Linked DNA regions of Homo sapiens: regions 2, 3 and 4 are each linked to region 1. Evidence: fine-mapped expression QTL. A gene starts in region 1. Each other region holds a variant in brackets. All regions are shown on one strand. Distances are from middle to middle.

Region 1 (2,500 bases):
CAAATGTAAGATTATTTGAAGCTGTATCAGCTTGTAATTTAAGGCCTGCAGCTGCTGGTATGATAGAAGTATCAAATTTCAAAAGAAATTATGGTAGAGTATAAATAAGCAGAATGAAGAGAAAAGTCTCCTGAGAAGAAAATAAAATGAGAATGAAGCATATGCATTGTTATTGCATTGCTCCTTTTTTTCTTCATTTTTTATTTCAGGTTCGAGGGGTACATGTGCAGGTTTGTTACACAGATAAATTGCATATCACCAGGATTTGATGTACAAATAATTTCATCGCCCAGGTAGTAAGCCCAGTACCCGATAGACAGTTTTCCGAACCCCACCTTTCTCCCTCCCTCCTTCCTCAAGCAGGCCCCAGTATCTGATTGTTCCCATCTCTGTGTGCATGTATACTAAGGCACTGCTTCTTATATTCAAGGTTTAGTACTAAAATGCAAATATGAAGTATATAATTTAGTAAGTTTTAATCCTGCTGCAAACCAGGTCACATAAAAATAATGCAAAATAAAATATTAAAATTATTCAGAAGTTCGATATTTATTCTGTTGTCTTTACACCTTATAAAATGGAATGACCTAATTACTCTTAAATAAACATAAAGACAATTTAAGGTCACATTTGTTACATTCACATAATTTGTTAAACACAATAGAAATGTTAGTTTACTAGAAAAGAACTGTCATAATTTTAACATGCAGAGTTTGTTTACCTTCTATTATGGTGATCTTTGTTTAAGATTTTCTCCTCAGATGTTAAAAGTTTTTCACTTAAAGAGGCTTAGGGAAAGTGATTTTTAAAGAGTCACTGTTACATGGTAATATGCCGTTCATTTGGATGAGACTAGTATATAGGTAATAGTCACAAGTTCTAACTTGCATGTTAATTTGAAGAGATTTTTCGTAAAATTTTATCAACATTAGTTTCTAATGGAAACCAGTCTTAGAAGTTTTCTGCTGTTTGTTTGAGGTAAAGTTTTTTTAAGAAAGTTATAATTACATTAAACTATCATGCTTTAGGGTTTAAATGTTGGAAAGTTGGTTTTGTAAGAAGAAGAGTTTGGTTTCTTGTTTGTTTGTTTGTTTTGGTTTGTTTTTGGCATGCGAAGAGCTGTGTCCTGGAATTGGTGCCCAAAAAATTTTAAGTGTGGTATGAACTGTTTATGTCACTGAGTAAAATTAGACACGTCTGTTGCTAATGTGAGGGGATGAAACATGAGACAGGGCGAAACTCGTGAGAGCCCTTTCTCCAGGGACAGTTGCTGAAGCTTCATCCTTTGCTCTCATTCTGTAAGTCATAGAAAAGTTTGAAACATTCTGTCTGTGGTAGAGCTCGGGCCAGCTGTAGTTCATTCGCCAGTGTGCTTTTCTTAATATCTAAGGTAAGTGCTCAGTTTTAACTTAGATTTTATATCAGTACAAAGTACTACCTAAAAACCAAACGCTTAAGAGGTTTCTTAATATTCTTTCTTCTTTGGTGGCATAATAATAAATTTAAAATAATGTTGAATAAATTGGTGTATCACAACATAATGACATATCAAGTATCAATGAAATTCTCATTTCAACTAAGTTATTCTGACTACAAATATGCTACATATTTTTAGCATAATCCTATATTTCTAACATTTTTAATTTGTAGAATGCCAAAGGTAGCATTTCTGTATTATTGGGCATTGAATTGGATCCTGTAGTTAATTTAAACAAAGTATTATCTTTAAGATCACCTACTTCTAATTCTGCTCTTAAACTTTAGTGGTAGAATTACATTTGCTTTAGATTTTCTTGATAGTTTTGTTATAGACACTAAGAAATAAACTAAAATGAATGACAACAAAAGTCCAGTGGTTTTATAAGTTGGAAATAAACAAAACAAGAGCAAAATAGCAACCTGACTCCTTCACTATTTTTGGAGTGAAAAGGGAAGAATGTTTCTTTCCCTAAATCTGGAAAATATAAAATACTGCTCAAAATATGTATGAAAAAATAAACATAAGTGGGGTAAAAGTACACATGTGCTAATGCTTCAGCTTACTGAAGTTATGAGTTCTTTCTTTGCGTTTTCTAAATTAATACATGACAACTAGCAAACACAATTTTTTTAAAGGAAGGATTAGAAAAAAATAATACGGAAAAATATAACTCAGCTGACTGAAAGATTTGCCAGCAGACCAGTACAAAAACGAACTACGGAATACACCGTTTGTTTTTTGCTTATTTTCTTGCAAACATTTTGTAGGTACAAAAAGGCACCTTTGTGGAATTTAAAAAGTAATGCTACAAGTTGGGGTTCGTTTTATAGGTTCTAGGATTCATTTCAGATTGTCTTTCAAAGACAAATGAAAAGTAGCATTTCAATGTAGTTAGATATAGCATTCCAAAGACTAACAAATTCAGGTGTCCAAAAGATATCAGCTAAGCTTGCAGTTAAAATGCGGAAAATGAAATTGTTCCATATTGTCCTTTAAAAAATGTACTTGCTAGTCATTAAA
Region 2 (2,770 bases), 30 kb before region 1:
AATAAGAAAGAATAAGAAAAAAATGTACAGGTAAAAGCAGAATTGATGGCTTCCTGATCCTCTCTTTTCTGACTTCTGCAACTCACTGGAGCATGAGAGAAAAACAAAAGCTAATATTTTTATGTATATGCATTTTTCACAGCTTTACTGAAATATAATTCACATACCACACAAAATTCACCCATTTAAGGTACAGAATGAAAAAGGCTTTACTATATTCACAGTTATGCAGCAGGCACCAAACTCTCAACTTAGAACATTTTTATTAGCCCCTAATTGTCTATTTTTCATATTATGTCTATTAATTATACTATCTGATCTTTTGTCGTTGACTCCTTTCACCTAGTATAATGTTTTCAAAGTTCATCCATATTGTATTATGTGTCAGTAATTCATTCCTTTTATTGCTGAATAATATTCCATTGTATGGATATATCATGTTTTATTTATTCCTTCATCAGTTGATGTACATTTGGATTATTTCCCCATTTTTGCTGTTATGAATACTTCTAGTGTGCACATTTGTATGCAAGTTTTTTTATGGATTTGTTTTTATTTTTCTTGAATAGATAAATAGAAGAAAATTTCTGGGTCGTCTGACAAGGCTATGTTTAATGTTTTGAAGCACTCCCAAATTGTTTTCCAAAATGGTTGCAACATTTTACATTCCCTCCAGCAATATATGAGTGTTCCAATTTCTTCACATCCTCGCAAATTTGTGATTATTTGTCTTTTTTACTATAGCATTTCTAGAGGCTGGAAGTGGTATCTTATTGTGGTTTTGATTCGTGTTTTCTAAATGGCTAATGCTTCAAGTATCCTTTCCTATGTATATCTTTTTTGGAGAAATGTTCATTTTCAGTTAGCTCATCCTTTTATTGAGCTCCTTATCAGATATAGAATTTGCAAATCTTTTGTACCATTTTCATGTTTTCTTTGGCTTTCTTGATGGTATAATTTGCTGCAGAAACATTTTTTATTTTGATGAGGCCTAATTTGTTTTTTCATTTGTTACTACTGAGTTTGATGTGCATAACAAGCTTTTGCTGGGCTCAAGTTCATAAAAATTTATGTTCTCTTCTGAGAGTTTTTAGTTTTAGCTCTTACATTGAGGCATATGATACATTTTTAGTTAAATTTTGTGTATGGTAGGAAGAAGGAGCCCAACTTTATTCTTTTGTGTGTGAATATTCGGTTGTTTTATAAACATATGTTGATAAAACAATTCTTTTCCCATTGAATGCTCAATTAACTACAAATGTGAGAGTTTATTTATGAACTCAGTTCTGTTCCATTGATGTATATGTCTTATGCTAGTACCATATAGGTTTGTAGTAAGTTGCTAAATCAGAAATCATGAGGCCTCAACATTGTTCTTCTTTTTCCATATTACTTTCTCTGTTTTGGTAATCTTGCATTCCTATATGACTTTTGATACTAGCTTGTCCATTCTTTTGAAGCTAATGAACTTTATTTTTTATTGACATATAATAATTGTACATATGCATGGG[G/A]TACAGTGTGATGTCTGCATACATGTATACACTGTATAATCAAATCATGTTCATTAGCATATTTATCAACTTAAATATTTATCATTGCTTTGTCATGAGAACATTCACGACAAAATCTTCTCTTTTAGATATGTGAAATATACAATGCATTATAGTTAGCTATAGTCACTCTACTGTGCAAAAGAGCAGCAGTACTTATTTCTCCTGTCTAACTGTAACAGTTCACCTGTTGACCACCTTCTCCCCTTCTCCCCATTCTCATTATTCTCCTCAGTCTCTGGTAACCACTGTTCTACTCTCAACTTGTATCAGTTAATTTTTTTAGATTCCACATATGGGTGATATCTTATAGTATATATGTGTCTCTGTGCTTGGCTTATTTCACTTAACAAAATGTCCTCCAGGCTCATCCGTATTGTCACAAATGACAGGATTTCATCCTTTTCTGTGGGTGAATACTGTTTCATTGCATATAATAATCTCTTTATCCATTCATCTGTTGATGAGCATTTGGCTTGATTCCATAATCTGGCTATTGTGAATACTAATGCAACAAACATGACAGTGCAGATGTCCCTCTTCGACATATTGATTTCATTTCTTTCAGACATAAGCCCAGTAGTGGGATTGCTAGATCATACGCATATTAGTCCATTCTCATGCTGCTAATAAATACATACCAGAGACTGGGTAATTTATAAAGGAAAGAGGTTTAATTGACTCACAGTTCAGCATGGCTGGGGAGACCTCAGTAAACTTACAATCATGGTGGAAGAAGAAGCAAACACATCCTTCTTCATGTGGCAGCAGCAAGGTGAAGTGCCAAACAAAAGGGGGAAAAGCCCTTTATAAAACCATCAGATCCAGTGAGGACTCACTATCACAAGAACAGCAGCATGGGTGTAACCGCCTTCAAGATTCAATTACCTCCCGTTGGGTCCCTCCCAAGACACGTGGAGATTATGGGAACTACAATTCAAGATGAGATTTGGGTGGGGACACAGCCAAACTATGTCAATATAATTTGCCTTTCTTGGATGTTTAGCGAGGTTGAGCATTTTTTCATATGCTTCTTGGCTGTACATTGATTTTTCTATCTATATGATCTGTCCTTTGCTGAAATTAGGGTGTTGAAGTGCCCTACTATTATTTTATTGCTCTCTATTGCTCCCTTTAGATCTACTAATATTTGTTTCTTTGGGAAAAAAAAAAGCAGTTTTTCACCATTAAGTATGATGTGATGTTAGCTATAGGTTTTT
Region 3 (2,500 bases), 110 kb after region 1:
TACTCAAATAAGCTAAAACCTCTCTTTAATTCTTAAACAGCTTCCATTTAGATTTTAGTCAACTAGGATACTGAATAATAGTTTTTAAGCGAAATTTATGGAAGCGATTAAACAATTTCAGCAGTTCAGTCTGAAACCAATTTAGGCCTTTAAGCAGGCTCATCTTCCTCCCCCACAAAATTAGACACCAAGTGGCCAAAGTTAACATTTCTTTTATTAACCCAAGTTACAGAACATACTATTGGAATAACATCAAAATGTTGTCTTCAAAAAACTATTCTACACCATTGCCAGAACTGACTTCTGGCAGATGACAAATTGTTAGTTTGGCTGCCCTAAGTGTATTTTAGCTCCCTGGCAACAATTTGCTAGGCTCAGTCCATTTCCCAATATTATCTTTAAAAACAGAGTTCTATAATAGTATCCATTTCCCACCACTAATAAGAAAAAATAAGATCTAGCAATAGTCCCAATTCCATTTCTTTATGCCTTCTGTGCAGCTAAGCAAGATCACATAAAGTCAAAAGTGATAGTGTAGAAATGCCAGAGTCACCCATAAAGCCAGTGACAAAAATGGACCTGGAGAACAAAGTGTTCAGCAACTGAAGAAGTGAAAATAAACAAGGATGTTAAGTCGAAAAAGACGTGAAGACAGATATCTGGAAGGTGCTTTTAGGAGTACCATATCCTTCAAACACATACCCAAGGGCACAGAACACTGTCTGATGCAGCACTGCACGCAGCGATCAACGCCGTGCTGCAGTCCATGGTATTTCAGCTGAAAGGAACAAGAGTCCCAATTAAAACAGGCTTAAACTGGAAGGACATGTATTATCTCACATAGGAAGGCTGGGGAAAGGGTAACTCCAGGTTGTTGATTAATTTAGTAGCCAAGTAATATTTTACGCTACCTTTCTTCTCTGCAAGTATGTTGATATTTCCCTTTTGGGTTGCAAAATGATTCCATCAATTGCAAACATCACTTGCCTCTGCAAAGACTTCTCTAAACATCTATCTATAAGAGGGCCTCAGTGATTTGGCATCTTAAGTTACTCTCCCAGCTGAAATTTTTCTCAGATTAAATTATTTGAATTTCTTTTGTATGTGG[C/T]GTTTGGCTGGATTTATTGTTTATAACATAATTTATTTTGAGTTTTAATGTGGAATTTAAAACTGACATTCATTGTGATAAGTTCTCTATTTGTCTTATCTGTGCCATATTATTTCATGATTTTTATTTTTTAATCTTACCAGGTTTGAATCTGAAAAAAGCCTGGTATAAAGGGAGATAGAGTGGGACCAGATTATGCAGGGATTTGCTGGCCATTTTAAGAATTTAGGATTTGTTTTAGTTCAATGGGGAGGCATTGAATTGTTTTGAACAGGGTACTCCTTGATTCATTATACATCTTAAGATCAATCCAACCATTACAAAGGAGGTTGGAGGAAAGAATGGAGGCAGTAAGACCAGTTAGGAGGATGTCAATTGTAGTACACGTAATCAGCGAAGGTGACCTGGATTGGGTGGTAGCAATGGTCAGAGAGGGAAGTGAATTACTCCAGTTTAAGATCTGACAGCTACAGACTTGCCTATGAATCGGGTGTATGGCAGGCAGCCAGGAGGAGACTCAAAGATGATATTTGTTTTGGTTGATGGCATTACTCTCTGGGTAACGGAGAGGCCTGAGGAGGAGGAGAATTCATTTGCAGGGCAGACAGCATCAACAGTTAATATTTTAGACACGTAAATTGAAGATAATCTGGGAAAACTGCCAAGTGCATGTCATGTCAGCTATTGGGCATGTGAGTTAGCTACTGCTCAGAGCAGAAGTCTAGACTAGAGATAAATGTGGGTGTCATCAACCAACTGAGCTCCAAAAAATGCCAACAGTAGAGGCCAAGTAAAGGCAGAGCAGCCACCAAAGGAGAATAAGGGACAGACAATGCGGTGGGAGGGATATTACGATAATCGTTTTTCTGGTGTCAAGAGAGACTATTTTCTCAGAATTTGGACCCAGGAGAGATGACAGAAATTGTCATTGGATTTATTATTACGGAAGTTATTGCTATCTTAAGGAGAGCATTTTTCATTGGAGTAATAAAGGCAAAAGGCAGGTTGAAGTGGTTACAAAGTGAATAGGACGGGAGGCAGTAGAGGCATTATGTGGTGACATTAAGCGGAAGTTTGGCTGAACGAGAGAAATGGAATTTTTTTGGCATCACTTGAAAAGACCGTATCAGTCCATAAATGCTCAATGAAGGTGTAGAATGAATCTTAACAAATAGTTATCAGTGTTGATACAAAAATGAATGCATGTCTGAGATATATATTACTGTCTGAACAGAAGTATTAATATTGAATTCAATGTATTTCTATAATTGAAGGAACCTAGAAACAGCAGTATGTTGCAAAGAATGGAACAACTTAGAGTTATTTGCCGTTCAGTTGCTGAGCTCTGTCCAAGAGCACCCTGATTGCTGGGCTCTGTACCATGATCTTTTC
Region 4 (2,732 bases), 22 kb before region 1:
TCATACACCACTTCGGATATATTTAGCTTTTTATCACGGGACTCATAAGTTCTCTAGATCCCCACTGCGATCGTCATCACCAGCACAAACTGTTGCTAATAATTTATTTCTAAGCCAACAAAGGAGAAGTTCTGGCTCTGAGATCAGATTAGTTTTGGCAATTAAAACACATTAATAACTTTTGAATTCTTTGGCAGAAATATTAAACTGCAGCCTTTACTGATTAGTACGGACATTTTTAGAGTAATAATTCACAATATCTGTCATTTGCTGCCTGTGAAATATGTAGGAAATTATTAATATACCCTTAATAATATATCTCTATATCCATCTTGTTTATCCTTTGCTCCTTGAGGGGGATATTTTTAGAAAATGATTATCACTGTCTATCAACTATAAGAGAGAGAAGTAATTAGAGAAGTATTGCACTGGACACTTCTGGAAAATTGGCTTTTCTCGTTTCAATTTCTACCTTTGCAAAAGTTTGCTTTTAAAAAGTGTAATCTAGAAGTTGTAAACATTTCTGCCTTGCAGTTATCCATTCTGTTACATTAAAAACATTTTAAAACGGTCCAACATCTTTATGTTTCTACTTGGTCCCAAATATGGTACCAGATTTTTACTGTAAAAAATCATAAAATACACCAGCATGATCCTTTCGGGAATATATTTGAAAGTTTACCTCCTTAGCACACTCACCAAACATCTTCAGATACCCATACCATTCACACAAAGCTGGTAAAACCAAGATGCTCCCCCGTGATGCATGTGTACGGAGAATGTCAACGAATAAATAAGTGAGTTAAATACACAAGCACTAATTAGAAAACTGTATTGAGAGGTGAGCCCAGCTGGACTTCCTGGGTGAAGTGGGGACTTGAGGAACTTTCCTCTCTTACAAGAGGATTGTAAAACACACCAATCAGCCCTCTGTAAAACACACCAAGCAGCGCTCTGTAAAACACACCAATTGGCGCTCTGTAAAACGCATCAATCAGTAGGATTCTAAAAGTAGCCAATCATGGGGAGGATTGAAAAAAGGGCACTCTGGTAGGACAGAAAAGCAACATGGGGGCGGGGCAGGGGAGGGAGAGACAATAAGGGAATAAAAGTTGCCCCCCATGCTGGCTGGAGTCTCCTTTCACAGTGTGAAACGTTTGTTGTTTTGGTCTTCACAATAAACCTTGGTACCGCCAACTCTTTGGTCC[G/C]TGCCATCTAAAAGCGCTGTGACACTCACCGCGAAGGTCCCGGCTTTATTCCTGAGACCACGAACCCACCGGCAGGAACCAACTCCAGACTACTATGTGCTACAGAGAACTTCTTCAGGCCTTGAAAATAGAACATAGTAAAAAGCGGCTTCTTTGTCCATGGATCAGCAGTCACTATTTCCCAGCTCGCCTCCAAGAGCTAACTAAAGTGCAGCATAAACTGCATGCAGCATTGTTTTCACCACAGCAAACCCTTCGGGGTGCCTCCTAGCGGCGGATGGAGAACTAGCATTGCGCGAGAGTGAGTAAACTGTGATAAACCCAAGGGGTTTGCGGGGGACAGGCTGGGTGGCAAGACTTTTAAAGGCTCGCAAATGGAACCACTCCCTCCAGAGGGACTATCTAAATCTCCTCAGGTGCTGACCCTTTCTGACAGTAAAGGACGAGGGCCAGAAGTGTAAAGATTGTGGTCCCGCGCTCCAAGCCCAAGATGCGTTCAGCAGGAGTAGTTGGGTTGGAAAGAAGGCACCCAGCGTCTGCAGCGAAGGACTCGCGTGGGAGCGAGAAATGTCCCTGCCCAGTGCCCCGCGCGCTGGATCGCGGGGGCGAGTCTGAGGGTGGAGAGGCCGCCGGGTGGAGGCGCGCAGGGGTGCGTGGGTGGGTGCGGAAGGAGTGCAGGGTATGGAGGGGAATCTTGGGGCGGCGCGAAGGAGGAGCGCTTGGAAAGGCGCGGTGTTTGGTCACAGAGGGGCTCGGAGTGGGAGTGCAGGGGTGCGGGGAGGGAGTGCAGGGACGCGGGGAGGGAGTGGAGGGGTGGGGACGTGCTGGAGGGGCGCGCCTCGATAGAACTGGAGAAACTGGAAAAGTGGAGGGGCGGGGCAGTGGCTGGAGGAACCTCTGAAGCGACGCGGGGAATATGTGAAGGAGTGCTATGTTGGAACTTGGAGGGGAGGGGGGATGCTGGAGAGGCACACGGTGATGGACATGGAAGGACCCGGGAGGTGTGGAGTGGTGGGCCCGGCCCGTCGCGGGAAGGACACAGAGGGACATAGGCTGCCCTGGAGAGGCGCTTTCGGACATCTGGAGGGGCGCATAGTGCTGGGACTTGGCGGCGCCTGGGGCGGAGGGGCGCGCCGGATCCAGCCGGGCGCGCTCGGGGGCCGGGCGCAGTGGGAGTTGACGGGCGTCCAGCCGGCGGCGCCCTGGGCTCGGCTAGGCGCAGGACGGCCCTGGCAGCGGTGCAGCAGCCCAGGCTAGTTCCTGGGGGGTCCCTGGTCCCCGCCTCCCCGCGCGCCCCGGCCAGCACCGCCCGGAGTCCGGGCGGGGAAGTGGGCGCCCGCGGCTTGGGAAGCTGCTCCCCCGCCCTGGAGCAGAGTCGTCGCTGCGGTCGCTGAGGAAGGACGGAGCAGAGGCCCGCGCTGTCTGGGGAGAAGACTGTGGTGTCATCCCGTCGGGAATGAAGGGAAATGCAGCGGCTGTTTGCGCCCCGGGACTCCAAGAAGTACAGCAGGTAAAGAGAATAGC

Direction of the effects. Positions count from the first base shown, and alleles are read on the strand shown. Sizes are in standard deviations (SD) of each study's normalised expression. Not every link is listed here.
In carriers of allele T in region 3, the expression in tibial artery of the gene that starts at base 1,294 in region 1 tends to be higher than with C alone (moderate effect, 0.46 SD a copy in GTEx).
As copies of C replace G in region 4, the expression in fibroblasts of the gene that starts at base 1,294 in region 1 goes up (small effect, 0.29 SD a copy in GTEx).

The links. PIP is the estimated chance that this variant, and not a neighbour inherited with it, causes the effect.
Region 2: its variant is the best candidate, but not a certain one, in a credible set for the expression of SGCG in lung (TOPMed, PIP 0.64).
Region 3: its variant is the best candidate, but not a certain one, in a credible set for the expression of SGCG in tibial artery (GTEx, PIP 0.64).
Region 4: its variant is the best candidate, but not a certain one, in a credible set for the expression of SGCG in fibroblasts (GTEx, PIP 0.85).

Annotation. Positions count from the first base shown.
Region 1 is chr13:23,179,686-23,182,185 of GRCh38, forward strand. SGCG (sarcoglycan gamma) reads left to right here and starts at 1,294. Exons shown (of 8, transcript NM_000231.3): 1 at 1,294-1,390.
Region 2 is chr13:23,149,567-23,152,336 of GRCh38, forward strand. The region is part of intron 1 of LOC124903134 (a long non-coding RNA gene); the gene reads right to left. Among named protein-coding and RNA genes, the nearest start is that of LINC00362, 20 kb to the right of the region's middle. The variant G/A (reference allele first, on the strand shown) is at 1,512.
Region 3 is chr13:23,288,466-23,290,965 of GRCh38, forward strand. The region is part of intron 5 of SGCG (sarcoglycan gamma); the gene reads left to right. Among named protein-coding and RNA genes, the nearest start is that of SGCG, 110 kb to the left of the region's middle. The variant C/T (reference allele first, on the strand shown) is at 1,109.
Region 4 is chr13:23,157,929-23,160,660 of GRCh38, forward strand. LOC124903134 (a long non-coding RNA gene) reads right to left here and starts at 1,748. Exons shown (of 2, transcript XR_007063719.1): 1 at 1,238-1,748. It also overlaps a transcript of SGCG not described here. The variant G/C (reference allele first, on the strand shown) is at 1,209.